Homo sapiens: one gene and its partner. The protein of the gene in region 2 interacts with the protein of the main gene of each other region in a biochemical or structural test. Each region holds a gene or a part of one and is shown on either strand. Other genes may lie near its edges. The genes, in order: APBA1 and CACNA1B.

What was found.
Region 1: the proteins of CACNA1B (region 2) and APBA1 form a complex in vitro, tested with the Homo sapiens proteins (one study listed by IntAct).

The regions. Positions count from the first base shown.
Region 1 is NC_000009.12:69,652,960-69,669,371, forward strand, and holds part of APBA1 (amyloid-beta A4 precursor protein-binding family A member 1), read right to left. Parts: intron 1-16,412. UniProt on the Homo sapiens protein: Putative function in synaptic vesicle exocytosis by binding to Munc18-1, an essential component of the synaptic vesicle exocytotic machinery. May modulate processing of the amyloid-beta precursor protein (APP) and hence formation of APP-beta.
Region 2 is NC_000009.12:138,115,611-138,131,360, reverse strand, and holds the end of CACNA1B (voltage-dependent N-type calcium channel subunit alpha-1B), read right to left. Parts: coding exon 15,682-15,750; intron 13,416-15,681; coding exon 13,280-13,415; intron 12,710-13,279; coding exon 12,593-12,709; intron 11,197-12,592; coding exon 10,989-11,196; intron 10,731-10,988; coding exon 10,480-10,730; intron 9,893-10,479; coding exon 9,362-9,892; 3' UTR 6,742-9,361; downstream 1-6,741. UniProt on the Homo sapiens protein: Voltage-sensitive calcium channels (VSCC) mediate the entry of calcium ions into excitable cells and are also involved in a variety of calcium-dependent processes, including muscle contraction, hormone or neurotransmitter release, gene expression, cell motility, cell division and cell death.

The DNA of each region.
Region 1 (16,412 bases), about 68 Mb from region 2:
ACACTCCAGCCTGGGTGACAGAGTGAGACTCCAACTCAGGAAAACAAAAACAAGCAAAAAAAAAACAAAAAAACAAGACTCTGTGTTGGCTACAAGAAACTCACTTCACCTATAAAGACATGCATAGACTGAAAGTGAAGGAATGGAAAAATATATTCCATGCAAATGGAAACTAAAAAAGAGCAGGAGTAGTTATACCTATGTTAGAGAAAGTAGATTATTTTAAAGTTAAGAATGGCTTAAAGACAAAAAAAAGGCCATTATATAATGATAAAGTGGCCAGTACAGCAAGAGGATATAACAATTCTAAATATATATGCACTCAACACCAGGGCACCCAAATATATAAAGCAAATATTCATAGACCTAAAGGGAGAGGTTGACTACAATACAATAATAGCAGAAGAGTTCAACACCCCCACTTTCAGCAGTGAACAGATCATCCAGACAGTAAATCAACAGAGAAACATCAGAGTTAAGCTGCACTCTAGGCCAAATGGACCTAACAAACATTTACAGAACGTTCCATCCAACAGCTACAGAATACACATTTTCCTCAACACCACATGAAGTATTTTCCAGGATAGACCACATGTTAAGTCACAAAACAAATCTTAAATTTAAAAAATCAGTCATATCAATAATCTTTTCTGATCACAATGGAACAAAACTAGAAATCAATAACAGAAGGAACTTTGGAAAGTATGCAAAATCATGGAAATTAAACAACATGCTACTGAATAATAAATGAGTCAATGAAGAAACGTAAATAGAAACTTAAAAATTCCTTGAGACAAATGAAAATGGAAATAGAACATACCAAAACCTACGGGATACAGCAAAAGCAGTTCTAAGAGGGAAGTTTAGACCAGGTGTGGTGGCTCACACCTGTAATCCCAGCACTTTGGGAGGCCGAGGCAGGTGGATCACTTGAGGTGAGGAGTTTGAGACCAGCCTGACGAACATGGAGAAACCCTGTCTCTAGTAAAAGCCAGGCATCTCCCGTGTAGCCGGGCGCATGCCTGCATGCCTGTAATCCTGGCTACATGGGAAGCTGAGGCAGGAGAAATGCTGGAATCTGGGAGGCAGTTGCGGTGAGCCGAGATCACACCATTGCACTCCAGCCTCGGCAACGAGAGCGAAACTCCATCTCAAAAAAAAAAAAAAAAAAAAAGAGGGAAGTTTATAGTAATAAATGTCTATATCAAAAAAGTAGAAAGATCTCAAATAAGCAAGCCACCTCAAGGAACTAGAAAAATAGGAACTAAACCCAAAATTAGTACAAGAAAAGAAATAACAAATATCTGAGCAGAAATAAACAAATCCTTAGCTAGACTTACTAAGAAAAAGAGAGAGAAGATCAGGTGCGGTGGCTCATTCCTGTAATCCCGACACTTTGGGAGGCTGAGGTGGGAGGATCGCTTGAGACCAGGAGTTCAAAGTTTCAGGGAGCTAGGATCACTCCAGGAATACTCCAGTTAGGAGCACTCCAGCCTTGGTGACAGAGCAAGACCCTGTCTCAAAAGAAAGCAAAGAAAGAAAAGAAAAGAATAGAAAACCTGAATAGACCAATAATAAGTAATGAGATTGAAGCAGTAATAAAATGTCCCCCATCAAGGAAAAGCCCAGGAACTGATGGCTCCACCACTAAATTCTACATAACATTTAAAGAAGAACTAATACCGATTCTTCAAAAACTATTCCAAAACATTGAAGAGAAGGGAATACTTCCAAAATCATTCTACAAGGCCAGTATTACCTTAATACTAAAACCACACAAGGATACAACGACCAAAAAGAAAACTACAGGCCAATATTCCTAATGAATATAGATGCAATAATCTTCAACCGAACACTAGTAAACCAAATCCAAAAACACATTAAAAAGTTCATTCATCATGATCAAGTGGGATTCATCCCAGGGGTGAAAGGATGGTTCAATATAGGCAAATCAATTAACATGATACGTCACATTAACAGAATCAAGGGTAAAAACCGTATGATCATTTTAATAGATACAGAAGAAGTGTTTGATAAAATGTAACATCCTTGATGATAAAAATGCTCAACAAATTAGGTACAGAAGGAATATATTTCAACACAACATGACAAAGGCCACGTATGACAAACCCACAGCTAACATCATGCTGAATGGGAAAATGTTTAAAGCTTCTCCTCTAAGATCTGGAAAAATATAAGAAAGTCCATTTTCACCACTCTTATTCAACATCATGCTGGAAGTCCTAGCTAGAGCAATTAGTCAAAGAAATAAAGGGCATCCACATTGGGAAGGAAGAAGTCATATTGCCCCTACTGGCAGATATGAATATATATACACATATATACACATATGTATGTGTGTATATATATATGTATATTCTCAAAGATCTCCCCAAAAACTATTAGAATGAGTAAGTAAATTCAGGAAAGTTGTAGTATACAAAATCAACATGGAAAATTAGTAGCATTTCTATATACCAATAACAAACTATTCGAAAAAAAATCAAGAAAGCAAATCCATTTACAATAGCTACAAAATAATAAATTACCTAGGTCTAAATTTTAGCAAGGATGTAAAAGATCTCTACAATGAAAACTATAAAACACTGATGAAAGAAATAGAAGACACAAATGAATGAAAAGATATCTCATGTTCATAAATTGGAAGAATTAATATCATTAAAATGACTGTATCTACAGATCCAACACAATCCCTATAGAAACACCCATGGCATTCTTCACAGAAATAGAAAAACAATCCTAAAATTCATATGGAACCACAAAAGACTCCAAGTAACCAAAGCGATCTTGAGAAAAAGAACTAAGCTAGAACAAAATTACAGTTAGATAGGAGGAATAAGTTCTGTTACATTAGCAGGGTGATTACAGCTAATAGCAAGGTATTATATATTTTAAGATAAGTAGAAAAGAGGATCTTGAAAGTTATCGCCACAAAGAAATCATAAAAGTTTCAGTGACTGACATGCTAACTACTCTGATTTGATGATTATACAATGTGCACATGTATTAAAGCCTCACACTGTATCCCATACATGTACAATTTTTATGTGTCAATTTTAACAACATTAATAAAAATAACACAACTTTAACACTACTACACACTTAGCAGAATACCTCAAGCTAAACAAATGGTAGGAAACCAGGTGCTATCACCAACGTGGAACCAACTACGATTCTCATAAACTGCTGTTGGGAGTATAAATTGGACAAAGTAGTCCCCACTTTGGAAAACCGGCAATATCTCTAAAGCTAAATGTATACCTGTTCTATGACCCCACAATTCCATTCCTGAGTATATACCCTACAGAAATCAGTGTATATGTAAACCAAAATAAACATATAATAATATTCACAGTAAAACAACCCTAATGTCCTTCAACAAAAGAATTGATAAACTCAGTATATTCACACAATGGATTAAACAGCAAAAAAGGAATGAATCATGAATTAATCTCTACAATATTAAACAAGAAGTCAGATGCAAAAGGCTACATACTATATGATTCCACGCAGATGAAGTTAAGAACAGGCAAAACTGCTCTATGGTGACAGAGGTCAGAGTAGTGGTTACCTTTCTGAAAGTGGTTGATATTGACTGACTGAGAAGGCATATGAGGGAGCCTCCCAGGGGCCAGAAAATGTTCTATGTCTTGATTCAAGTGCTAGTTATATAGTTTTTCAGATATGTGAAAATTTAGCAAGCTCTACGCTTGATATTTCTGTTTCTTCACTATTCAAGTTACATCGCAATTTAAAAACATCAAATATTAGATGAGAATTTGAGTTATTTATTATCACATTGGATGTATTATGTGACTAGTAGTCAAACTTTTCACCACTTAAGAATAACCGGGAGATCTTTTTTTTTTTTTTTTTGAGACGGAGTCTCGCTCTGTCGCCCAGGCCGGACTGCGGACTGCAGTGGCGCTGTCTTGGCTCACTGCAAGCTCCGCTTCCCGGGTTCACGCCATTCTCCTGCCTCAGCCTCCCGAGTAGCTGGGACTACAGGCGCCCGCCACCGCGCCCGGCTAATTTTTTGTATTTTTAGTAGAGACGGGGTTTCACCGTGTTAGCCAGGATGGTCTCGATCTCCTGACCTCATGATCCACCCGCCTCGGCCTCCCAAGGTGCTGGGATTACAGGCGTGAGCCACCGCGCCCGGCCTAACCGGGAGATCTAAGAGACCTGCCTAAAATTTTATTCCCATGGGGAAGAGAAGACAAGTCTGTTAAGTGGGTAGAAAGAAGCTGTAAGAGAAGAACAAGAGATGATGGCTATTTGCATCCCATTGAGTCCAGCCCATTCAATAAATGTGTTATATATAGAAGGCAGTGGATTTTGCTTGAGATTCCTTGAACAACAAATAGTGTTTTCTGAGCCTGCCAGTTATTACTTAGGTTTCTGTTTACTATTCAGTTCCAAAGATTAACTCTGATGTGATGACATGGGAACCATGGTTCACACTGACATCAGCAGTTTATTGACCTGTGTCTAGTGTTAATATCCAAAAACATTGTGAAAGACAGAAGTCCCCCTGCTTAGCCCAATGAGATCAACATTAGCCACTGGCTGACATTATCCAACTAATGATTACAACAGACTGTAACTATTCATTCTGACTAACATAGCACTTTGCTAGATAATACTTAGATTGGCTAATTACCAACTATTAAGCCTATTTTTTATGAAGTTATAGGAATATACTTACATATATATGCATATGTGTGTATACATATATATTTAAACATTTTACTACTTTAGCTTTACTTTAGATTCTACTCTAGCTTTTATTTTGGGTGACTCCTGGTTTAACGTGACAAATTTACCACCTTAATACCATCAATTATATATTTTTAATCTTTTCCTCTTCTTTTCCTCTTAAAGAGTATAAAGGTATACATCAGGTATAAATCCACAGAGAATGGAAGAGAGAATATTCACAAACAAAAGATTACAACACATTTTTCTTTGAGATGACTGAACTGTAGAACCCCAGGGATGCAGGCCTACCAAAGGATGGGGTGGAGAAGGCTCTGGAAACAGGAGGTTCACTGATCCAGAACAGCAGGATCCCCAGCCCTCTGCTCCACACCACACACATGTATCACTAGGAGCCAGCAGCTACTTCTCAGGAAAAAGACTGGAATGTGGAGATTCCCAGTGGAACAACCTAATAGCTCCCTTGGTTACCCTGTAGAGAGGCCTGCTGATGGACAATGTTGTCCTACTCAAGTCCTTTCTCTCTTTCTTTCTTTCTTTCTTTCTTTCTTTCTTTCTTTCTTTCTTTCTTTCTTTCTTTCTTTCTCTCTCTCTTTCTCTCTCTCTCTTTCTTTCTTTCTTTCTTTCTTTCTTTCTTTCTTTCTTTCTTTCTTTCTTTCTGTGTTTCTCTGTCTCTCTTTCTCTCTTTCTTTCTCTCTTTCCCTCTCTCTTTCTTTCTTTCTTTCCTTTTTGAGACAGAGACTTGCTTTGTCACCCAGGCTGCCACGATCTTGGCTCACTGCAACCTCCACCTCCTGGGTTCAAGCAATTCTCCTACCTCAGCCTCCTGAGTAGCTGGGATTACAGGCGTGCACCACCATGCCCAGCTAATTTTTTTTTTTTTTCAGTTAAGACAGGGTTTCACCATGTTGGCCAAGTTGGTCTCAAACTCCTGACCTCAGGTGATCCACCTGCCTTGGCCTCCTAAAATGCTAGGATTACAGGCATGAGCCACTGCACCTGTCCTCAAGTCCCTACTTTCAATGTGCTTTCCCACCCAACAGCCAGCACCTATGGCTCTTTTTGGGAGGGCTGCACTTGCTTCACCCTTTCATGTCAAGAGCCAGAAATACCTGAGAATTTATGTCCCCACCCAACAGACCCCCTCTCTTAACTGAAGACTGACAGGTATGGAGTATGAAACACCAACCCCATAGATTCAGGCAGGGACAACTCTGAGGCTGACTTACACTCCAGAGCTCCCCCACCCCACACAGGATCAGGCTGAAGCCCCTCTTTGCAGTATTTTGTTTGAATGAGAGCATACCCTTACTTGACTTCTTCCCCTTCCCTTCCCAGTTTTTCCTAGGAGCATCTCCTTAATAGAGCAGCACATATACACACAAACCCTCTTCTTGGTGTCTGCTTCTGAGGATTCTGACCTAAGACATCTGCAAAGCACACCAACTTATACAGACCTTCTGGCCAGCTTCAGTGTCACAGTCCTACATATGAAAAGACAATCAACGATAAGCAGACTGTGCTAAAAACCTCCAGCAGGGAAGGGAGTGATCAACATAAACAAAAAGATGTAAACACTGTAATTCCCCAAGTGGGAGAAGCAGGAGATGTGATAGGAGAGGGAAAAATTAAACTCAGAAAGAGTAAAAGATTCACTGTACAGATATCATAATAAATGACACCTGAATCATCCACTTTCATATGCACATTCTCTCTACTTCATCAAGGGGAGCCACATTCCACATGAGAAGCTGCAGACGGGTTGATAATTGCCTACCCATCACATCACCATGCAGTCCTCTCTAAGCCTGCCCTCTCCACATCACCCCATCGCCTCTGCATCCATCCACTAAAGGTAATTTTGAAAACAGTCTTTGCACTGCCAGTAAGTACCATGTTGTGTTTCACAGGGAGCAGCTTAGACATAATAGCAAACAAAATCCTGAGCCTCTCATCCTCCACTCTTCCCCAAGCAGGTTTCAAATACCTCACATGACTTAAATGTATAATGATATGCACTTTTAACACTGGCTTAAAATTCTGTCTTTAGGACTAGACATCATCTACCATAGCAGTAACAATTTATGTCAAGTCAAAGTATACTTTATAATTTATTTTACATGTGTCATGGATCTCTCTTCCAGGTTATGGAAAATTAATATATTTTGGCAGGCTAAAATACTTAAGCACTCAACAGAAAGCTGACTTAATTGTTCCTTTCCTTAACAAATTTTAATAAGGAGTAGATACTGTTAGTGATTTTGGTCCCAAGCTTTTAATATATTTATTTCTTCCCACCCCTTAACTACATACCCACGTGCACACACTTACACACAATCCTTATTATAGAGTAACATATTGATCATAGACTATGTGGAATACCACAAACAGCCCTGCCATAATTCCAGCATACAGTTTCTGTCCATTTTGAGAAGAAATGTCAATTTACATATGTTATAATAATTCCACTTCCAAGTCTATACTTATTAAGAAGAAAAACAGGAGGTATGTTCAAGGCTTTGCTCTTAGAGAGATGTGCATGATTCCTCAATACATGGTAGGGAAATACAAAGATAAAGTACATTCTATGAGGTCCTCTTTATTTATAGTCAAATGCATGGAGTTCTGGCCCCCATGTTAAATTTTGGGGAAAGCATATCACCAAGGGCTGCTGGCAGCTGAGGCATGAAACACTTCAGCCGGTTCAGAGTTCCCTATAGTGGCAGGATACCCAAGGGAGCAAAGCTAAACATCTGGCCACTTTAGTTATCATCTAACAAGCGCTTTTCATGCTGAAATGTTGGTTTTGTTTGTCTGTTTGCTTTTCCTCTCTGTCCTCCCTGACATTCTTTTCCTTTTATGGTTAATAACAGAGGGGGGAAATACTTTAAGGCAAGAATCTCAAAGCCTTATATTTAATCACAAAATCTTAACTCAATCATTCCCAAAGCTTTACTAGAGAATAGGTGGAATTTCCTTTAAAGATGAAAAAACAGGAAACATACAAAAGCAACAGATTTTTAATCCTGATTTACTCAATAAATATTTCTTGGGCATATAGAATATACATGTGGGGGGCATACTATACATATGCTATTATCTTTCTCAGTGTTAAGGGAGATGAAAAAATGAGTGTGTGGGTGGGTGCATATTTTGAAAGGACAAGAGAGATGGAAAAGATGAGCATGAGCTGCTGGAATCCAGAGTGGTACAAAGCACTGTGAGAGTTTAGATCAGGGGTCAGTAAACTGAGGTCCGTGGGACAAATCCATCCCACTGCCTGTTTGTGTACTGCCTTGGAGCTGAGAATGTTTTTTATGTTTTTAGATGGTTGCAAAAAGTTAAATGAGAAATCAACATTTTGTGAAGCAAAAATGATATGAAATTTGAATTTTAGCATCCATAAACAAACTTTGGTTGAAATACAGTCACACTAATAGGTTTACATATTGTGTACAGTTGCTTTTGCACTACAAGGGCAGAGTGGAGGAGTTGTGGCAGAGACCATATGGCCCACAAAACCTATTTACTACTAGCCCTAAACAGAGAAAGTTTGTCAACTTCTGGTTTAGAGGAAAGAGACACTAGCTATTAGAACTAGGTAGGGAGTCACTTTCGTTCAATGTCATGATGAAGGAAGTGAGACATCTACCTTACTTTTCTGTACCCTTTCATATTTTATTTGACCCCAGCGGCCCTGTGCAGGAAGAGATGGGAAGGGCAGGTTTCATCATTTCCCCTTTTGTAGCTGGAGAAGCTGAGGCTCAGACCAACCTGGAGACTTGTTCACTGTTGATGGCTAATTATGGCAGCACTGTATTCCAGCTCATTCTGAGTCCTTGCCACCCCACAGGGCCAAGAATGGAGAGATGTCGGTGCAACAGTACTATGGTCTGAATGTGGTTCATCCCCACAAAATTCATGTTGACATTTAATCCCCAATGTGGCAGTATTGGGAGGTGCATGGGTCATGGGGGGTGAATCTCTTATGAACAGATGAATGTCCTCCTGCAGTGATGAATGAGTTCTCACTCTTGCAAGGATGGAATAGTTTCCTAGACAGTGGATTGTTAAAAAGAATCTGGCTTCCTTGGTTTTTCTCTCCTTTCCTCTTTCACCATGTTATCTCTTCGCACACACTCGCTGTCTTTCCACTTTCCACTATGAGTGGAAGCAGCATGAGACCCTTACCAGATGCAGCTGCCTGGTCTTAAACTCTCCAGCCACCAGAATTGTGAGCCAAATAAACTTCTTTTCTTTGTAAGTTACCCAGCCTCAGGTACTCTGTTATAGCAACACTGAATGGACTAAGACAAACAGTAACACACACACACACACACACACACACACACACACAGACATCCCAAGTAGGATGAAGGCATCATAAACAAGAGAGTCAAGATGGGGCAGTGGGGATGGGAAGCTACTGCTGGGCCCAGAGGACAGAATAGACTCCAGGACCAGCAACTGTCTGGGCCCATTCCTGTGCCTAGACCTGAGGCAAATCCCCTTTGTCCTGTTTTGTAGCCACTGAGGAACCTCTGAGAACCTCAAAGTCCAATCTGCAATATAAGTTCTCTCCTGATGTGGTTATGAAGAGTAAATTAGGTCATTATGAGAAGTAAATGAGTTAGCTGTGTACAGTACTTAGCGCAATGCCTGACACTTTGTAACTTGTTTTTAGTCACTGGATGGGGAATCTGCTGAGCTTTTAAAAAAGGAATTTATGTGTACTTTGATAGCTAGCCTGCCATAAAGAACACAATCATACCTGAACATAAGATTAGGTTAAGCTTTCATATGACCTAATACTATGGAAACATTTCATCTGTAGAACAAATTCTAGCTCCTTTAGGAGAGAACTCTTCCAGGTACTAGCTCAGGGAAAAATGATTCTTATATTTTCAAGTTATTTGGAAGGGAAGTGGGCGTAGAAACTATTTTCACATCTGGGAAGAAATAATATTAGGTTAAAATTTAGAATTAAGTAATTTAACTAAACATCCAGAACTCTAGAGGCTAAGAGACAGCAGCTAGGAAGAGGGGCAGGAAGAGTGAAGGACAGGAAAGAATCGTGAGGAACCAGCTCAGCAAGGAGGTTGTGGCCCAGTGACTTGACACGGTCCCCACAACCCAAGAAAGCCACAGATCTAAGAACAAATCTATTCTTCTTACTCCACTTTCCCTTTTCCACACTAATGTAATTTCTTCTTTTGGAAACAAAATGTCTACTCAAAAATAAAGTTTCTCTCTGTGATTACTGCATCATTTGTCCATACCACCAAATATCCAAATATGCTAACAATTCAAAAAACGAAAAAACAACTTTTGACATGAAATTATTTCATACTATAAGAAAATAAACACTCTTCTGATAAATGTAATACAATACAGCAGTGTTTTCTAAACTGCATATTAGGGTTCACCAATGCAGAGATTACTTCAGTGGGTTGGCAAACATACAGAACAGAAGAGAATAGGATAGGAAGCATCAGGGTGGATTACACATAATAAAGGACAAGTATTGTTGAGTGAAACTTGTTTCAGTGATGTATGTGTGTGTGTATATGTGTTTACACACATTCATCTATGTTGCTAGCCTATCATCTAAATTGTGTTCTCACCAGGAATCATGGCCAAAAGTGTGTAAAAGCCACTGCAACAGAATGCAACCCACTTTAGTAAAGTCCAGTATAAAAGTCCAAATTCACTGAATAGCCAATGTAGGGGGTAATTATTCTTGTTAAGTGGAATTTCCTTAAATGACTCTAAGCTCGTCCTCTGCTTTTAAAATATGCTACAATTTACAAGAAAAAGGAATTTATACATACTTTGGCAATTATCCTTCTTTAAAATAAAGTGTGCCTGTTAATAAATGCAGAATTGATCTCGAGATACAAAATTTATCAATAGTCAGAAACATAACGATTACATTATTTGGAATGGTGGCCAATTAATTCCATTAGGAAATAAATCATTGCTGTATTTGCTGTATTTTTCATACAAATTGTATGCTAATTAATCCACATGGAACAGAAGAGGAGGCTGAAAAGGAAACTTAGTGTGTAGGGATTGGTTTTGCCACCATACCTTGACAACCTCCTGTGATCACTTTACATATACAAAAAGATGAGATTCTGTCCTCCAAAATGTGTATTTCAGAAAAGAGAAAGTTGCCTTATGTATAAATGCTTACAAAGTCTCCCATATTGTGGGGTATTCTCTTAATTACCTTCTTCTGAATGCCAAAAACCCTGTTACCTCCAAGATAACAGAAATTGAAAGCCATGTAATTCACTAATGCTGGATGTGACGGCAACTGATTTTAAAGAGAGAAACCATGAAAAAACATATTACCTGGTAAGACTGCAGATTTCATGAAAAGGAGTTGTGTGTTTCAGAGGTTACTTAAGAACTATTTGGAGAAGATAGCCGGAAATAAACTCAATCAACACAAGATAGGGATACTTCTGAAGGCTATGCAATTGAAAGAAGATAAATGACTGAATGAATACAGAGTAAAGGAGGCCATGATTTTAACACCAATTGAAGTAAATATTCCTGGGAAGGAGCTTTACAATTGCTTGTCTTGGATGTCTTTACACAAGACATACAGAAGTGCTGGGTTGCAGAGATCATAAATATACTCCTTTAGGAAGAAAGGATAAAACAAACGTTCTTACATTAAGTGAATGAGCACACAGGGTTTGGAATAAAGTTTGTGGTGGTAGCATCATACAGAAACTCAAGAAGTACTATATCTCAAAAAAGTTAGATAGAAATGAACATGACAAAAGTGGCCTAATCATGACAAAGACTCTAAAGTCAAAAAAGTATGTGAAGTATTTGAATAAATGATTTCATAAAATGTGAGAATGGAAGGATGTCATATTTCTAAATTAATAATTTTATATAATGTGACTTCAATTATATGAAAGTAAACTAATAAATTAAACATAAGTAGATACTTCACTCTTTGCCTATATTCCTAGAATATGCATATTCAAGTTGACATAAAGTCTTTTTATAAACGCTCTTGTTGGAAAACTGAGGGCCACCCTATAACAGAGCGTATCTTACACATGAGCATATATAGTACTCTGCACCTCAGATAACTGAGGGTGGCCAATAGTTGGCTTGTGAGTGAACAGAACTGCAGGCAGTTGTCACAATACATTAAAATCCCTAAATTAAAATAACTGCCATCAAACCAATTATTATCTGTTAAAAATTCTTTATGATACCTCTGTGCTGTGTTAAACAGGGGTCCCATGTCCACTTCTGAGTTCAGCTATAGCTGTATCGACAGTCTCCAAATACACTGACAGTTTCCCACTTCCACCTGGCTCTGCCTCTCTGCTTCTCTGCTCAAGAGCTTTCTTTGGTGTCTCTGGAGCTTGCTCAGGCTAATCTTAGCAGCCCTAAAGTACTGAAGATTTAATATCCCTAGGGAAATGGTGGATAAAGACCCCACTTTCTCCACTGCTTGGTGGACAATCCTAATGTGCAGTCTATATAATGCCAGCAGAGCCAAGCCTCAGCTGCCCACCGTGGTAACCTGCTCATTAACTCACCTCTTAATGGGCTTTCTTCCCTCTCCTGTGTCATTTTCTCCATTCTCTCACTTGTGCTTCTTGAGGTTGTCTCTCAGATAAACTATTCTGAACTCAAGTCCTCATCTCAGGGTCTGCATGCATAAACTGCTTTAGCATCCTATGGCAATTCTGTGTCCTGTTTGAAAAACAGCTACCTATCTGCAGAAATCAAGGTAAACGAGCTTTACCCTCATTCTTTACACCTGAGTTACTTAAATCTTTGGAAATTTCTCATCAATTCCTCTCCGTAAGTATTTGATAAACCCTTACTAATGCAGAGAGTCAGTCTGTGTTATAGAGTATACCCAGATGAACAAAACAAAGTTCTAGCCTCAAGGATCTTATACTTGAGAATGGAACATGAAACAAGGAAGAAGAAAAGAGAGCAATATTTAAAGAAGATTCAGGACACAGAAGAGATGTAAGTTCCAAGGAGCAGAACTACTTCCAGCTGACTAGTATTTCATCACTACCCAGACAGAATCACGCTTTGTTTTCTGATGTGATCTCGGCTCACTGCAACCTCTGCCTCCCAGGTTCAAGCAATTCTCCTGCCTCAGCCTCCCAAATAGCTGGGACTACAAGCATGCGCCACCATGCCCGGCTAATTCTTGTATTTTTAGTAGAGACAGCATTTCGCCATGTTGGCCAGGCTGCTCTCGAACTCCTGACCTCAAGTGATCTGCCTGCCTCAGCCTCCCAAAGTGCTGGGATTACAGGCATGATTGTTTTCTAACTTAAATACATTTGATTGAGGATATTCATCTTTATATAAACCCAGTACTGATTCATAGGTCAGCCCAAATACAGTAGATGGTAATACAGCCTTATGGGCAAACAATTGAAAATGAAAGGCAAAGCATTTTATTGTGAATTCCCTAAGTGACTGCTCCAGGTAAACCAAGGAAACCAATAAGGTTTCCCTGCTGTCCCTTGAGGATGCCAAACATGTTCTTATCCAGCCTTTTCATTTTTGATATCCTCTCTGCCTAGAAGACCCTTCCCCCAAATATCTGCAGGGCTCACTACTTCACATCTTTCAGCTCTTTCTGCTTAAGGTCTTCCCTGACCATACTATATAAACTAATGTCACCCCCCACCCACCCACTATCATCAGTCCATTGCTCTCTCTCTTTTATTCTTCGTCATAGCACTTACCACCTGGCATATTATGTAATTACTTATTTATTTATTTTTAATCTCCTTCCACTAAAAGTTCTGTGATATTAAGGACATGCCTCCCCCCACCCCATATTCCTTGCACCTAGAATAGTTTCTGGCCCAGAGAAAGTGTTCAATGAGTGTATGTTGAAGGAATGAATAAATTTCATCATTAAAACCTCAAAATCACCACTCATTACAGTTGAAGTTCCATAAACTCACCTGGAATCATGACATAATCCCATAACTCAAGGATCTAAAGGGTTCACAATCATTTTGTGAAAAATGTGGGGTTTTTAAAAATAAAGCTTCAATGTATATATCAGGTATGAATAAATAGTTTTAATGCTATCATAAACTTGCACAGGCCATAAAAGGCAACTCATTCGATGTCCATTGTGTAAGAATGAAATCCTGAAATTTAAAATTTTAGATACTGTTGCTAGCTTACTTAAAAAAAGTTTATTCATGTATTCATGTGACAAATGTATATTGAATGCATATGATGGGTATGGTATTGGGCGAGGTGCTATATTTGATTTTTCTTTTGAAAACTGACTTTACATGTACGTCACTGTAAAACCATATTCTACCATTACAGATAGAAAAAGCTCATCCTTTAAAAAAACACTTACATTTTTCCCCATTGTTTTACTATAAACTTCTTAAAATTTAGCTCAGATCTCTGAGAGAGAATATTTACAGGAAATACAAGTGGAGTCTTTTATTTGGATAATTTTAAAGGTAAACATTCTCCTCTTTTTACTGCATTTAAGGGAATGAAGAACCACTGTATTTAGTGAGATTAAATGCTCACTATACAAAAATTACTTAAGTAGTTGTCAAACTCCAATTATATAGCGTTAATTGGTTTCACTACAAATTCCTGCTTTTCAAACACATGAGGTCCTCATGGTTGGGTAATGATCTTTTATTCACTCCTAATTGACTCACTGCTCTGTTTCCACAATGCCCACAAGTCTTTGTCATTCTACTCCTGGCTTCAACCTGCCCACCTCTCTTTGACCTCACTTAAAAGACTGTGGCCAAATTCCTTTCTTTCCACCTCAAAATTCCTATGCTTCTGTCTCAAAAGAATCCTTCCTTTGCTTTCATCTAGTATCCTCCCATCTTCTTGAAGACTTAATTCCCTCAATTGAGCCTCTCCCTTACATTTTCAATCTCTTTTTCCCTCAATGGATTGTTCTCCTCAGCTTATAAAGCAGGCTCAAGTCTTCCTATACTAAAAATACCACTTTCCCTCTACTACACCATTGTTGTGATATATCATACTCTCTCTCCTTCTCTTTTATCTCCCAACTTATTGAAAATGAAGTCTGTTTTCACTGCTTTCCATTTCCCTTCCCCCACGCCTCCCTTCAACCCTTGCCCCTGGCTGCCACTTCCACCTACCACAAAGACAATCAAGGAAATCCAAGAGTCAAATCCAATGGCTTTGCCTTGGTTGCACCGTCACCCATGGGGTGTGCTGTGTGAGTGACAGGGGCTCTCCTCACCCCTTCCAGCTTCCATGACACTGTACCACTTCACTTCCATCATTTTTCTCCAATTGCCCCTTGTTTAACGTGGTTCCTGTCCTCTTCTTTCTCTTTCCCCTCCAACATACAGACATCCCTCAAGGATCCTATCCTTACTTTTGCTTCTTCTTTCTTCATTTTCTTTATCAGTGATTCCTGGGATATGAAAATCGCTCCTAAGCAGATGACCTACAAATCTCCTGGTAGCTCTAACCTCCCTCTGTATTCTAGTCCCTTAACTTGGACAAGCCTGTCATGCTCAAAAAGAAACTTCTCTCCTCTTCCTTATCCTCTGTTATATCTTCTTTCTGAAAATGACCCAACTGCTCTCTCAGCTAAGCCTGACAATGATCTTTTGGCCTCCCTTTTCCCTTCCTCACTTTCCAGTGACTGTTCAAGCTCCTCAGATAATTCCCGCACACCACCTCTTAGGTGTGTTCCCTTCTTGCCTCCCACTGCCTCTTTCCATCTTTCCCCTACTTTGACAATAGAGTCTATCTGGTCTCCCTCCTGCCAGCCTTTTCCCATGTCATTCCATCCAACATAATACTACAAAAGTATTGCCCCAAAGCACAGTTCTGATACTGTCAATCTTTCTCCTCACAAATCTTCTATAGTTCCCCAGTCCTTACTGAACAAAATCCACACTCCTTAGCTTGGCGTACAAGTTGCTCCACCACCTTGAACAAACCTCTCTTTCTTGCTTTATCCCTCATTACATCTCTTGGCATTCCTAGCGCTTCAGCCAAAGCACACCATTTTTTTGTTTCCTGTGTAGGCATACACCTTCCACTGCCAGGCCTGTGCTACACTGTTCCTCCCCCAAGCATGCCCTTCCTTCTCTGCCAACCCAAATGCCACCTTAATCACAGCTCAAATGCTATATCCCATGTAACCTTCCCTAATTCTTCCATCAGAAGTCACTTTGTACCCTGTGAACTCCCACAGCTCTGCAGGAATACTGCTTTTTCAGCACTTAATCATTTTTCACTATTTTTACAGTTAGTAACATATTTCCTCTTTTCTCCTTCTAGATCATGATCCACCTCTGGCCAGGATCTAAGACTTAGCATTCTTTGAACCTCCAACCCTTCTCAACATTCCCTGTCCCCTATCCAAAGGTACAGTGGATCTGAGATGCGGGAGGCAATTAACAAATGTTTGCAAATTAATTATTGTAACCCAGAGAGTTAACTTCAGATTTTACGGCTTGAAATTCTCTCAATTTTAGCAACAATTACTTCTTCTTTCTAGGATAAAAGTCCTATCTCCCCAAGGTACTACAGTTAATTCCTTTTGGCCCCAGAGGTCAATTTTCAAATATCTCTTACCCCTAAGTCTTCCGAAACAAACAAACACAATAACAACAAAACAAAAC
Region 2 (15,750 bases):
GTCCGGGCGTGGTGGCTCACACCTGTAATCCCAGCACTTTGGGAGGCTGAGGCAGGAGGATCACTTGAGGCCAGGAGTCTGAGACCAGCCTGGCCAACATGGTGAAACCCAGTCTTTACTAAAAATAAAATAATTTGCCTGGCATGGTGGCACATGCCTGTAATCACAGCTACTCAGGAGGCTGAGGCAGGAGAATCGCTTGAACCTGGGAGGCAGAGGTTGCAGTGAGCCAAGATCATGCCACTGCACTCCAGCCTGGGCAACAGAGCAAAGCCCTGTCTCAAAAAAAAAAAAAAAGATGTGGAGTGGGGAGTGGTGGCAGCTACTTAGAGGCCAAGGCGGTAGGATCACTTGAGCCCAGGTGTTTGAGCCCATCCTGGGCAACATAAACAAGACCCCATCTCTTTCAGAGAGAGAGAGAGAGATTGATTTAGAAAGCAATTAAGACTGGGGCCTTGACCAAGAATCAATTATCAAGAACCTAGACTCAGCTAGTCTGAGGTGTCCTTTCTCTTCTGAGAGTTGAATGATTAACACAGAAAGTATAAAGTATAAAAACATAGTGCCGGGCGCGGTGGCTCATGCCTGTAATCCCAGCACTTTGGGAGGCCAAGGCAGGTGGATCATCTAAAGTCAGGTGATTTGAGACCAGCCTGGCTAACATGGTGAAACCCTGTTTCTACTAAAAAGACAAAAAATTAGCTGGGCATGGTGGCATGCGCCTGTAGTCCCAGCTGCTTGGGAGGCTGAGGCAAGAGAATCACTTGAACCCGGGAGGCAGAGGTTGCAGTGAGCCGAGATCATGCCACTGCACTCCAACCTGGGCGGCAGAGCGAGACTGTGTCTCAAAAAAAAAAAAAATAGAATCTTATACGTTTAATGCAACCCTAGGAAGCAATCAGGGAAGGTTCAAAAAATGAATAAGGGAATAAGAATAGGAGTAAAGAAATAAATTGAAATACCAGTGATGAGGATTTTCATAGCCTGTTCAAATCTAAGTATGTAGTCAATTTTGGGATCACTGTGATTTGGGGTTTGCTTTCTACTTAATAAGCTATTTAAAACACTGAGAAGGCAATATTAGAACTTTCATTTTAACGAAATATTCAGAATTTTGATTAAAATAAATACTAAATTAAGTTTACAAGCAACAGTTAAATATTTAGAGACATTTAATGTACTCAGTTTTGCAAACAGTACAAACATTTAAGAGTGTTGATTGAGGCTGAATGCGGTGGCTCACGCCTGTAATCCCAGCACTTTGGGAGGCTGAGACGGGTGGATCACGAGGTCAGATTGAGACCATCTTGGCTAACACAGTGAAACGCTGTCTCTACTAAAAATACAAAAAAAATTAGCCAGAAGTGGTGGCGGGCGCCTGTAGTCACAGCTACTCAGGAGGCTGAGGCAGGAGAATGGCGTGAACCCATGAGGTGGAGCTTGCAGTGAGCAGAGATCGCACCACTGCGCTCCAGCCTGGGCGACAGAGTGAGACTCTGTCTCAAAATAAAAAAAAATAGTATTGATTGGGAGTAAGGGAATGTCAACTGCCAATAAATGTAGAAGATGAAGGAACAGGACTTTAAACAGCACATACTTAGTTATGGGTCTCCGTCTCCTACCCATACAGAAAAACTCCCCAACATTCATGACTTCATCCACTCTGACTAGCAGATAGGCCACATTTCCTGACACCCTGGCTCTTCACCTCAAAAGGTTTGTCTTTCCACCACACCAGCAAAGACCCTCAGGATACACGATTCACACTGCCAGCTAAGCATCTACCCCAAGGGACAAGGTAAGCACACACTGAAGCAGCTGGGCCATCCTAGTCCTAATCCCTACAGCAGTGTCCACCCTGAGAATTGCAGCACTTGTAGAAGGTGGTCATCAGCTCGTCTGCAGAGCGAGTCTGAAGCTGCATGAAGTAAGCACGAGGATGTTTGCATTTGAGACATGGCTCTAGCAATCAGAAAAATAAAGAAGTGACCCACATTAAAAAAAAATGTTGCTCATGACTGTTAAAAGTAGGTATTACTATCCTTTTTTTTTTTTTGAGACGGAATCTCCCATTGTCGCCTGGGCTGGAGAGCAGTGGCACACTCTCAGCTCACTGCAACCACCACCTCCCAGGTTCAAGCAATTCTCCTAACCCAAACCCTAGCCCTAACACTACACAAACCCAAACCCGAACCCTAACCCTAAACCCCAACACTAACCCCTAAAGCTAACCCTAACCCTAACCCCTAAAACTAACCCTAACCCTAACCCTAACCCTAACCCCAACCCTAACCCTAACTTCTTAATCAACCGTATTGACTAATGAAGTAAACATGAGTAGGCCAGTCGAGATGGCTTACATCTCTAATCTCAGCACTTTGGGAAACTGAGGCAGGCAGATCACCAGAGGTCAGGAGTTCAAGACCAGCTGGCCAACATGGTGAAACCCAGTCTCTACTAAAAATACAAACATTAGCCGGGCATGGTGGCAGGCGCCTGTAATCCCAACTACTCAGTAGGCTGAGGCAGGAGAATCACTTGAACCCGGGAGGTGGAGGTGGCAGTGAGCTGAGATCACACCACTGCACTCCAGCCTGGGCGACAGAGCCAGACTCCATCTCAAAAAAAAAAAAAAAAAAAAAAAAGCAAACATGAGTGTTTAAACCTGAAATTTTTTGCAACTGGTATATGTGTGATATACACACACATACACACACACAGGGCTGGAGAATATAGTAAGGTAATATTCTGTCCAGTAAACTCTTATGAAATTTCAATGATCAATGGTGCCCTCTGCCTTTCATTCTGCATTGAGATTTTATTTTTCTTTACTGATTATCCCAAATATGGACTCTGCTTTTATGTATCTATTTCCTTGATTTATAAATTAAGGGTGATTCTCACATATGATCTACCAAACATTTTTTTTTTGGTCTAAAAAAATCACGTCAGAACATTTGTGTTGTTAGACATCATAACCGCTGTGACTTGAAGGATCTAGGTAGACAGAATCTTAAGAGTATTTGATAAGAGGGTGTTGGATGTGCATAGAGTTCCCAAGACTCCCGAGAGCCTGCTGTGTCCCTGCAGGTGGAGGCCGCAACGCAGGCAGCTGGGCTGGGCTGGGCGGGAGAGGGCAGCAGGTGGGAGCGCTCAGGGACTGGGGGCCAGGTCAGTTCTGCGACCCCTGTTCTGATGCCAGTGGGAAACCATCGTTAAAGTTAAATAAGAAGAGTGATGGGATGAGACTTGTTTGTAAAGGAGAGTTTTGTCGCAATCACCCTGAGGTCTCTGTGGGGTGTGGGTGGGTCTGTGCTCCTCCGGGGAACTCGCTGTGCAGAGCACTGCCAGAGGCTGCGAGTTCCCACCTGGAGTGCGGCGTCTGCATCTGCCCAGGGGGAACCGCTGTGCAGACCCAGGCTGGGGGCAGCTCTGCTCTTCAACTCTGCGAAGGCTCCAGAAAAGGAAAACTGGACCCAGATGGAAAGAGACATTTTCCACCCAGCCGTGATGGCTGTGAAGTGAAACGGGCCTGCGGACACGACCCTCAGGTAGAAACGTGGCCTCCTGTGCTGGGGTCACCTGGCGCTTACCTGGGAGGGGTCCCTGTTTTGGGTGAAAAACACTGGGGTGTTTTCTGTGAGATGCAGATCTGGCTCAGCAACAACCGCTGAGGAATCTGAGAGAAAAGAGAAAGAAAACTCCACACTACCGCTGCAAGTTTCCTGAAAGTATGGAATTATTGGGAAGTAAGCTACTTTTTAAAACAACTGTGTCAATTCCACGTCCGTGAAGCAGATACGACAACAAGCTCCACTGTGGAGGCCAAGCCCGAGGCAGCTCCAGCTCAGCAGCAGCTGTGAGCAGCTGGAGGCTACGTTTGTGTTGATTATGTCAGTGTTGATTATTATGAGCGGGGACTGCGGGGCCGTGTGGGGAGCACGGGGTTTCATATTAACATTTTTGTATTGAGGCAGCGCATTAGCATTACAGGTGTTTGTTACCTGAGCACTGCGAGTGTCACATTCGTATTTCGGGAGGCATATCTGCATTAGGAACGCTCCATTTGTGTTCCAAGGCCGCGGTGTAGACCTCGCACTGCGCCCGCCTCGCCTTGGGTGGGGAGAACCTCAGTGCTCAGGATTCAGAGGGGCTTTTGGTTTCCAGTTTCCCACACCGACCCCTCTTACTGGTCTCTAACCCTCAGTAGTCAGGGCTGCAAACAGGAAGGATTTTACTCACCATGGCCTCGAGTTGTCCCAAAGCGAGGCGGTGCCCCCCGGGTCTGTGCCGAGGAGGACGCGGGCTTCACCCTCGCTTCGGCCCGGTGTGGACGCCCTGCTGGCGGCCGGGGGCACTGCAGGGCCCTCTTGCTCACGGTGTCATGGCCTTGCGCCCCCTGCTGGCGGCCGGGGCACTGCAGGGCCCTCTTGCTCACGGTGTCATGGCCTTGCGCCCCCTGCTGGCGGCCGGGGGCACTGCAGGGCCCTCTTGCTCACGGTGTCATGGCCTTGCGCCCCCTGCTGGCGGCCGGGGCACTGCAGTGCCCTCTTGCTCACGGTGTCATGGCCTTGCGCCCCCTGCTGGCGGCCGGGGCACTGCAGGGCCCTCTTGCTCACGGTGTCATGGCCTTGCGCCCCCTGCTGGCGGCCGGGGCACTGCAGGGCCCTCTTGCTCACGGTGTCATGGCCTTGCGCCCCCTGCTGGCGGCCGGGGGCACTGCAGGGCCCTCTTGCTCACGGTGTCATGGCCTTGCGCCCCCTGCTGGCGGCCGGGGGCACTGGAGGGCCCTCTTGCTCACGGTGTCATGGCCTTGAGCCCCCTGCTGGCGGCCGGGGGCACTGCAGGGCCCTCTTGCTCACGGTGTCATGGCCTTGCGCCCCCTGCTGGCGGCCGGGGGCACTGCAGGGCCCTCTTGCTCACGGTGTCATGGCCTTGCGCCCCCTGCTGGCGGCCGGGGGCACTGCAGGGCCCTCTTGCTCACGGTGTCATGGCCTCGTGCCCCCTGCTGGCGGCCAGGGCACTGCAGGGCCCTCTTGCTCCCAGTGTAGTGGCGGCACGCACCCTGCTGGCGGCTGGAGACACTGCAGGGCCCTGTTGCTGCCACAGCCACCTGGCATTGAACAGCGACAGTGTGGCCAGCACTGTGCTAAGCTCATCTCGGTCATTCTCTCACCACATCCTCCAACGAGCCCGTGAGGCCCAGAGAGGTTAGGCGAGTTGCCAGTGGTCACACAGCCGATAGCAGCCAGGCTGGAACTTGGACTCAGGCTCCCAACTCTCACCCACCAGCATGTGCTGCCTCTGAAGAGTTTGGGATTCCCCTTCAGGGCAACTGGGAGCCACGAGGGATTTTTAAGGGGGGGTGGGTAGCACGGTCTCAGTGCCGTAAATCCCCAAGTCACGCTCGTGGAGAACCCGCTGCGTCCACCTGGGAGACGTGGCTGGTCTGTTTTCAGGGTCTGACCCTGCTGGCCTCTTCCTACACCACTTAAAGTTGGAGTGCAGGTTGTTCAGCACTATCAATTCTGCAAATTCAAACTGAAATGGAGCTAATACTGGGGAGACCTGATGTCCCAGTTCTTGTCTAACTTGAAAGAAAGATTCTCACCAAGAGGCAGTACAAAGATGGCAGATAACTTCATTGAAAAGAAATATAGTGTAAAGAGCTTATTGTAGAAAAAATAAGTATGCCTCAAGGGAGAAGTGGGGCTGATCTGCAGGAACACAGCCCCAGGGTCCTGAGCAGGGAGTTTTATGTTGGACTTCTTCACATTCCTCAAGTCTCCACCTCTTTTCTTTGTCTGGTTTTCCTGCTCCTTCCTTAGATCCCTGACTTGCCCCACCCAGGCTTGTGGGACCCCCTCACTGTTGGCTGACACATATGTGCAGTGATCAGTGTGATTCCACTGCTGGGGCTGGGCTCCTTCCTGCCACTCCAGGAAGGTCCTACAGTGGTCATGTCTGTACCTACTGTGCCTGCCTATCTCTTTCGAATGTCCTTCTCTGCCCTAATCTGTACTTATGGTGCCAGGTTTCTCTTAAGGATGTCCCCTTTGTCCTTATCAGCATGTAGCTAGCAATATCCTAACATTTTAACAGCAGAGCGAATGATTATTGGGGCATCTTAAGAGGAGCTCTGTGCCCCAAACTCACACAGCCTCCCAGAACCTCCTCTACCCAACCCCAACCCTAACCCACCACTGTAATCTTAACCAACCCTAACCCTGATCCCCAGGGAAGTTGAATCTGCCTCCTCCTGCCAAGTGCCTCCCTTGATCCTCACCACACTCTCAAAACCTGATCCCACACTTGCATTGAAAACAAACTGCAGGCCAGGCATGGTGGCTCACGCCTGTAATCCCAGCACTTTGGGAGGCTGAGGTGGGCGGATCACTTGAGGTCAGGAGTTTGAGACCAGCCTGGCCAACATGGTGAAACCCTGTCACTACTAAAAATACAAAAATTAGATGGGCATGGTGGTGTACGCCTGTAATCCCAGCTACTCTGGAGGCTGAGGCAGGAGAATCCCTTGAACCCGGGAGGCAGAGGTTGCAGTGAGCCAAGATTGCCTCACTGCACTCCAGCCTGGGCAACAAGAGCAAGACTCTGTCAAAAAACAACAACAACAACAAAACAACAACAACAACAACAAACTGCAGTTCTCACTTTCTTCTGACCCCTCCTAGCAGTGCACCCCAGGCCCACACCCTTGCATATACCAATGGCAGCATGGTGGGGTTTTGTTTTTGATTTTTTGCTAAGTTTTTATTTTAATTCAAGGACTTTGCTTCATACAAAATGTCATTGTAGAAACAACAGCAGAATCCAAAGTTTGGCTGATAAATATGACTCAGGCAGCAAACTAGTCAATCACAGAATTTCTTTTTAAGTAGGTCCCAGTTGTGTTGCATGGTTGGGACTTTTTTTTTTTTTTAACACTTCTTAAATATAAAGTTTTGCAACAAACCTTTGATTTATATCAAATATAATTAAAAATTAACAAATGAATACATTGTATCAAAAAGTACGAAGATATACATTATCATGCACATACTTGTATATATGTATATATGTATATATGTTACATGCACACATAACTTGTTCAAACTACAGCCACTGCTTGACTGGTTCCAGATGCAGACAACTGGGTGATGCACTTCAAATTTGGCAGCTCACTATGAGATTCAGGGGACATATATGATAGCCGGAGAAGACACAGTGAGAAACAAAACCCAAAGTCAGGAAAACAAGACATAATGTCTCCTTTCCCCGCTCCCTGTAGTTTTCATCAATTCCAATGCCTAGAAGAGTCTAGACAAGCCAGCTAGGCTGTGTGGGTTTAGAAAAGTGGATTCTCGACCCAACACTGCCTGGGGAAATGGCTGTGGTTCTGCATGGAATGGACACATTCGACACCCAAGATAACATGGGCTGGGGGCTGGGGAACAAGAGACAAAACGTCAGTGTCAAAATACACATCCTTCTACTTTGCAACAGGAGCACAGTGATCACATGCACAGTCCGAGATTCCTGGTTTATTCTATTGGAATAAAATACTCTGTTATCTTTAAAGTTTCAGAGTGTTGTGCCTTCAGGTAAGGAAATTCTATAAAAAGGTTTGGTCACAATCATGCTGAACCCCGAGACCAGGCAGCGGTCTTGTGTGTTTTACTTCTATTAAATGTGTCTTTTGTTGCATAGCCCTATGGGTTAATGACATCCACACACTGAACACACCTGTACAGGCACTGCATCTCCTGTGACACAGACACACACACACACACACACACACACACATCACACACAATTTCTTTGAGGAGAATCATGGGGTAGAAGCCAAGAATCCAACACAGATCATCTGGAATTTCAGAACACGGAGGACACACCACCATCAACTGCTCTAAATGCTCCCTTTCTTCACCAAACAAGGGACCTCCCAGCATCTTGTGCACCTTGGACAGTGTCCTGAGCATGGTCTTTCTCTCCTGAGCGTGGCCATGGGGGTCAGACCTCACTTGACTGCCTGCTCCCTGTGTCTGGCGCCAGGACAGTGCTGGGCATCAGGTGCCCGGCCTCAGTGGCAGGAGCCGTGTCCTCCCTCGGTCACTTGCTCTGAGTTTCATTCCAGCTGGGGCTTCCTCCCTCCTGCCCTGACGGCCCCACATCCAAGCCCCCAGCCAATGTCTTCCTCCTTCCTACCAGCCTTTGCCTCTCTTCTGCTGTATGTGGAAGGAAACCTATTTCACATACCACAGAGTGTGCCCTGAGAATCATATGCAGAACAGACTGAAAATGCCTCACACAAGCACGTGGTCAGCTGCCCTGTGGCTTCCTTGGAAACCCCTTCCACTCGTGGGAGGAGGACAGCAAATGGCTGCCTTGTTTGCCACCATGACATCCAGTGCTCTCCACTGGCAAGGGCTTGCTACCTGGCTGCCATCGCGAGTACTTTTCACAGCATCCTGCGGTGATGGATCCCGAGGCCTCGCCTCACACCACAGTGCCCAGGAGCCTGGGTGTGAGGGCCTGGCGGTCAGGCACTTGGTCAAGAGCAGCAGAGCCAGGGGCCGTCTACGTCCACCTGGACCGGACAGGGCTGCACAGGGAGTCTCCTCGCATAAGCCACAAAGACACGTGGCAAAAAGCTGACATCTTTCTTTCACAGGTTTGATTTTTTAAAGTTATGTGAACATTTCCTTCCCCATTTTTCTGGTTTTCCATTTTTTCTACATCACGTATATAGAAGTGACAAGAATGAGAGGTGTTGCAATTAAAAATCACAACCACAGCAAGAACACTTCCCAGCTCGGTTCCTGTGGGGCTGACGGTGTCCAGGGAGGACAGAGCTTGCCTGAGTGAGCATTCGCTGACACTGGCGGGCTGCACAAGCCACGACTGTGTCCCCCTCCCCATCCCCTCCGTCCCGAGGTCTCGGCGCACTTTCAGGTGGGCCCTGCTTCTCTGTGCCGCACGGCCACGTGAAGGGTGCTCCCCACAGGACGCAGAGCTCCTCACAACGGCTCCAAGCACCCATGCTGGATGCTGAGTCCCAGGACACGGGATTTGGACTCCTGGGTCCTTCTCAGCCACACACAGCAGCCTGCGGTTTAGGGTCTGGTGTGTGGTACGAGACCCAGGAAGGCAGGACAGGAAGGGGACAGAGAGAGCCGCATCCTCTAACAGGGCTTTATTCGTCGTCTAGAGTAAAAGAGGGGAGGAGGGGGAGGGAGGGGCCACAGGAGCCTCACCAAGGTGGGCAAGGCCTCCCCCGAGGGCCGGCTGCCCCGTGTGGATGATAAAACTCATCCACTGGAACACACGCCTGCTGCATGCAGGCGTCTGAGCGGTCACGGTGCAGCTAGCACCAGTGGTCTTGGTCAGGGTGGTGGTAGCTGTGCCGTGCTCGGCCACCCGAGCTGAGTCCCAGGGTGCAGTGGTAACCGTTGGGCACGCGGCGGAGAGGGTGAGACTGGGAGGTCAGGGAGGACACGTAGGAAGTCCTGGAGGAGCGGCCCGAGTTGGTGGCCACAGCCTCCTCGAAAGTGAGAGTGTCCTCAGGCAGGGCGTGGACAGAGGCCTCACTGTCCAGACGCTGCCCCAGGTAAGGGTCAGAGCCAATTCGAGAGCCAGGGGCCAGGGGCTGGCTGAGGGGGTCTCTCTGCAGCAGGGCGTTGTGTTCGGAAAGCCCACGGCTGAGCCGGCCTGGGGAGAAGGCAGGGAGGCTGGTCTGAGCCCCGGCGAAGTGGATGGGTGAGGAGTTGGCCGTCTTGTAGGTGATGCTGGGGCGGGGAGTCAGGGGCGTCTGGGGGAGCTGCCTCCGCCCACCGCGGCCGGGGGTGCTAGCACCAGATGTTGACAGCAAGGGGCTCCCATTCACGGAACCACTGCCCTACATGAAAATGGACCAGAACAAATCAGAGGTAAAAAAAAAAAAAAAAAAGCCGAACCAACAGACAGAGCACATCACACACAGGTGCCTGGGGGGATGGGAGGAGAGAGGGAGGCAATGGGGGACAACGGGCTGCGGTGACCAGGGAGGCAACAGGCACCTGTGTGCGGGGGAGGGCGATGGTCAGGGTCAGGCCCAGGAATGGGGTTGGGGAGAGCAGGTGATGGGAAGGGACAGGCTGGGGCCAGGGAAAAGGACAGAACAAAAGCCCAACGACCACAGTCAGGGAAGGAGAGTTAAGTGACCGAGAGAGAGGTAAGTATTTGGGGGCCCAGGTCCGAAAGTGGATAGGACGCAGAACCACTGTCCCAGGGTGACCCAGGCAGGAGCTTGATGAGAACACAGCTGGGGTAGGCTGCAGACGTGGGCTCCGGGACAGGGCACAGAGGGGAGCGCCCGGCCCTTGGGTTGCTGGGAATGACAAAGGGCAGCAGCGAGGCCCTGGGGAGAGGCAGGAGCCTGTGGGACAGGGGTGCTGGGCCGAGGAGAGGCAGCTGGGCCCTGACCTCTCCACCTATTCCTCTTACCTGTGGGTGGGGTCCCGGCTCCTGGCCAGCTGTTGGCGACGTTGGGTGGCTGCTGAGGGAGGGCTTGGGCTTCGGGGGCTCACGGCCCCCAAAGCGGTCGCAGGAGTAGAAGCGCTGCTTCTCCGAGGAGGAGGATGAGGGCTGCCTCCGCTCCTGGGACCGGCCCCGCTCCTGCCGGCGCTCTCGTTCCCGCCGGCAGCCTGTAGGCCCCTCTCCCGGGGGCAGCCCCGGCCCCACAGCACTGCTTGGTGCTGGCCAGGGAAGAGAAGAAGTTAGCACGGCCAGGCCCAAGGCAGGGACCCCTGACCCCCGGGCCCAGCAGGACAGAATTCAGGTGGTGCCAGGGGAGGCTAGGGTGAGGGTTAGGGCCTGGGCCTCAGTCCCACCCTGCTCTGGCTGGTTATGGGGTCACGAGGCCCACAAAGGAAGAGGGTCCCCCATGGGCCGCTTGGACCCCCTGACTCGGGCCATAGCTCCCCGAAGGACTCCCCGGGCCCCTCCGCACGCACCGCCATCCATATCGGCAGACAGGCTGGGCCCCTTCTCCAGGGACCTCTGCTTCCTGTCCCTGCGGCGGTGGCAGCGGTGGTGGTGGTGGTGCGACGACGCCTGGCTAGGGGGTGGGCGGTCCGGGGTGGTGCTGCAAAGATGAGTCCCACGGGGCCGCTGGGCCAGCGTGGAGATGGAGCGCTTCATGGGGCTGGCATCTGTGACGGGCTGTGGGCAAAGGACTGAGAGTGGGCCTAGGGGAGGCACCAGGGTCAGCGGGAATGCAGGCATGGAAGTGGGTGGTGGAGCAGGCCAGACAGCAGGCCCACACGCCCCCCATCCTGGTCTCACAGTCAGAAGGACCCAGGCCTGAAATGGTAGCCCAGGAGGGCAGGCTGGGGGCAGACAGTGCCTGAGTCCCCGCCCCATCCCATGTGTCGTGCCAGGAAGAGAGAGGTGGCTGGCTTGGTTGGAAGAACCCTGAGTGGAAACCAGAGACGCCTCTGCTGGCTGCAATGGGATCACTCTGCCTGGTGCGTCTGGGGTGGACTGGCTCCCGAGCTGCTTCCACGGCCAGAATCAGGACCCGTGAAGACACCTGGGACGGGTAGGCCCTCCCAGGTAAACTCACCCACAGCCGCCAATGCATCACGTGTGTGAAGGAGGAGGCCCCAGCACAGGCTGCAGGGAGGCTCAGCCTGCACCCACCCACCAGGCAGCACCCAGGAGGGTACCACTGGGCGGGGAAAGAGACAAGAGAGGAAGGACAGGTGGGAAGAGGAGAAAACCCTAAGAGGGAGGAGAGGCAGTGAGGAGAGGAAAAGGGTTTGCTGGCCACAGCAGTGGGATGGGAGACGAGCCACGGACGAGGTTCAGATCCACAGCTCCACAGCCCAGGTCGGCCGAGGGACAGGGCTGGCACGGGGGCTCCGGTCACTTTTGGCCAACTGAAGCAGGCTCATGTTGCAGGTGAGGCCCTGCAGCTCCTCCGAGGCCTCGGAGGCCGGGGCACAGTGTTCCCAGATTGGCCTCGGAGGGGCGATCCTCCCAGTGTCCTTGTGGAAGGAGCCTCCCCCGGGAAACACATGGGGCCAGAGCTTCCTCTTCCTGAATCCAGTGTGCATGTCCCAGAAAGAGGCGAGCCCAGCAAGGAGCTGGGTAGAAAAGTAGTCCAGGGACTGCCCATGAGCAGGGAGGGTCCTCCGCAGAACCACGGGCGGGAGAGGGGACTGAGGTGTCGGTGAAATTTTCTGGATGAGAGTGGGGGTTGTCTCAGGGAGTAGAGCCCCGGAAAGGAGGAACAGAACGTGGCTGAGCCAGAGTGGGGGCCCCTATGCCCCATGGCCCCTAATAGGAGGCTGAGAACAGGCACAGCTGTCCTCTACCGGACCTGACCCACCCTCTGGAGAAGCCTCAGGGGCTGAAGGCGTCCAGGCTGCACCTCTGTCGGCGCCCAGACAGGACTGCCCGGGGTGCCTGCTCCTGCCTCAGCAAAGAGCTCCACACATGGACCCCAGCCTCTCTACCCCAGCTCTCCTCACCTGCAGGAGGCCCAGAGCCACAGCCCCACTTCCCCACCCCCCACTTGCCCAGCCCAGGGCCTGGACCCTCCCAGACCACCTACCTGAGTCTCGGCCGCAAGGCGGGGCATGGAGGCCGCTCGACCCTGGCTCTCCAGCCCAGGCTGGGGCTCCCCATCAGGGCCCCTCCGGGTTATGCTCTGCATCTGAACGTCCACAGCCTGTGGATACAGCACTCACCTAGTCCCACCACACAAGGCACCGCGGACTCATCTGATCCCACCCCGGACTCACTCCATGAGGCACTGGGGTCTCACCCAAATCCATCTCAGTCTCACCTAACTCCCACTGCTGTTCACACGTCCCCCACCCCAGTCTCACACACCCCCCATCCCTGTTCACATATCCCCCACCCCAGTCTCACACGTCCCCCACCCTGGTCTCACACATCCCCCACCCAAGTCTCACATGTCCCCCACCCTAGTCTCACATGTTCCCCACCCCAGTCTCACACGTCCCCCACCCCAGTCTCAAAATCCCCCATCCCAGTCTCACACACCCCCCATCCCTGTTCACACATCCCCCACCCCAGTCTCACACGTCCCCCACCCTGGTCTCACACATCCCCCACCCCAGTCTCACACGTCCCCCACCCAAGTCTCACATGTTCCCCACCCCAGTCTCAAAATCCCCCATCCCTGTTCACACGTCCCCCACCCCAGTCTCAAACATCCCCCATCCCTGTTCACACATCCCCCAACCCAGTCTCACTAGCCCCCGGGAGTGCTCACCAGTGCTCCTGACCGCCCCACAGGGATCTCTGTGGAGTGGCCACGCTCCAGGGGTGGCCTGGCCTCATGGGGTGCATCCTGGGTCCTTTGAGTGCCCCAGGAGACAGACTCTTTGATGCCACTCTCTTGGTTTTGTCTGTGGCAGAGAAGACAAACAGATTCCTGTAGGGTCAGAGACTGCAGGTGCCTTACCAATAGCCTGGTGCTTCAACCTGCCAGGCGTCTCCAACACATGCAGCAGAGGTCAGGGGGTTTGGCCACCCTGTTCTGGACTGAATTGAGCCCTCCTTTGGGCACAAGAGCCCCAACGTGGCCTGTGCACGCTGGACCCAGGCAAAGCCTCATCAAAGGACATGGATCCAAAACAGGGTCAGAGCAAGAAGGGATTCAGAGTGGCAGAGAGGATGCAGAGCACCAGCTTACAGCCCACAGTGCTCAAGTCTGAGGGGGGCCTGGGTCCGTCACCCGCTCCTCTGGACAAGAGGCTGATCTGTGAAGTGGGAGCAGGGGTTGTCCTTGCCACACAGGACTATCCTGGGAAGGAGTGGGGCCGCATGTGTACAGCCTGCATTAGGACAGTAGCTGAAGAAGTCCTGCCTATGCCAGCAGACAGCAAGAGAAGCTGTCATGGAGAGGACAGGCTGGGACAGATGAGGGCAAAGCTGTCATGGAGGGGACGGGCTGGGACGGGGGGTAGGGGGCCTCGCCCGGGACTCTTTGGGCTTCCTCCTCTAGGGGCTTCCTCCCTCAGGGGTCCCTTGCTGGTGGCTCCTCCTTACTTCTCTGACCCCCCCCCCAAGCCACAATGAGCCCTTCCATCCCTCGGCTCTCTGCTGGGGTGCAGCCTTCTGGCGGAGGCCACCCCACACATGCTCCCCATACGCCTGCCCCAACAGCCCCACCCGGAGATACTTCCGCACTGGTATTTCTCATCACTTATCTCCCAACTGGCGTGGAATGTGTTCGGGTGAGTGCTCATTCTCACATTCAGTGAAACACTGAAGACTACGTTCTTAGTCATGCAGGTTGAGTGGCACTGATCACTCTGAGCTCAGACTGGAGCCTGATAGTCTAAATGGACCACACCCTGACCACAGCAGTGGACGCAGAGATGGCAGAAGGACACACTGGTGGTTGCTGGGGCTTCTGAGAAGCCCCATCCTTTGTCTTCTGAGAGTTGCAAGCAGCTCTCCTTCCATGCTGTCTGGGGCACTGCAGCCCCTGCTGGCACCAGGCACAGAGCGGCCGCAGTGGCAGGCTGGTGCTGAGAGGAGGGGTGGTTAGGAGAACCGGAGCTGGCTCCTAATGCACCGCTAACCCTGAAATAACACCACGTCCAAGGCCAGAGGTGTGCTCAACCCGCTCACTAAATGGCTCAATAAATACCCTCACCAGACCCAGTCTGAGTGGGTGCTCTCTGACTTGGAGTTGTAATTGATTTAGGTAGAAACTACCATCACAGAAATAACAGAAGCTCAATTTCCTGCTGAAAGCCTGGCTTAGATAAACCCCAGACACCTCACTATCTCCTCCCACCTGCACATACAGTCAGAATCAGGACTTTAAATGCAAGGAAGGTTTTCAACAGCATGCTGAAAGCAGTGTGGGAATGGGGGGCTGCCAGCGGCTCGGGAGTCAGCCCCCAGGATCTGGGTCCTGAGATTTGGGAGCACACTTTTCTGGGCCACAGTGGGAAAAAGTGATGGTTCTTGTAAGTCACCTGCTTCTGGGTGATTTGTTACCCGGAAATATTGTGGCAAGAGTTAAGTGATACAAAAGAACCTTACCAATTTCTTTACAAAATATAACAGCTTCAGAAATCAGTACCAAAGTGGAGATCTGAGAGGAAAAGTGCCTTACGGGGTTAGAAAGATCAGAGCAGTAGAAGGCCATTGACAGAAAGGGGTGGGAGATGGAGGTGGAATCTCAGCGTCTGCTGGCACGGAGGGCCGATGAGGAGCAGGGGCAGGGGCCTCTTGTCTGAAAGGGAAGCAGGTGCGTGTGTTGGGAATGGGACGTGGTGGTCTAAGTGCTGTTAGGAAGGCGGGTTCGATGAAGCACCTGTCTAATGTCACAGGAAACGATTTTAAAGTCTGCCACAGAAACCCAGCAAAGGAAGAGCCCTTGACTGCTCTCAGGCAGCAAGTACAACAAGCATCTGTAGCAAAGCCAGCCCCTGAGAACTGAGATGTGGCCTAGGGGCTCTCTGTCCTTGGAGGGTTGCTAAGGGCCCAAGTGCAGGGTCGGATGGCAGACACGCCCCTCAGGTGCCTCCAAGCTGGTGAACCCAGAGGCCAGTGGAAGTGAGGGCCAGGGAGGTTGAGGAAATGGGATGTCTGCTTCCCCCTTTACTGTCTTTGGACCTCCTCCTGTCCAGCTATGTCCTGCATCTGGATACTCACATGGCCCCGCCATTGCTGAGGGAGGTGGAACTCTTCTGTCGAAGGAAAACCCGGGCTCCTCGGAGCACA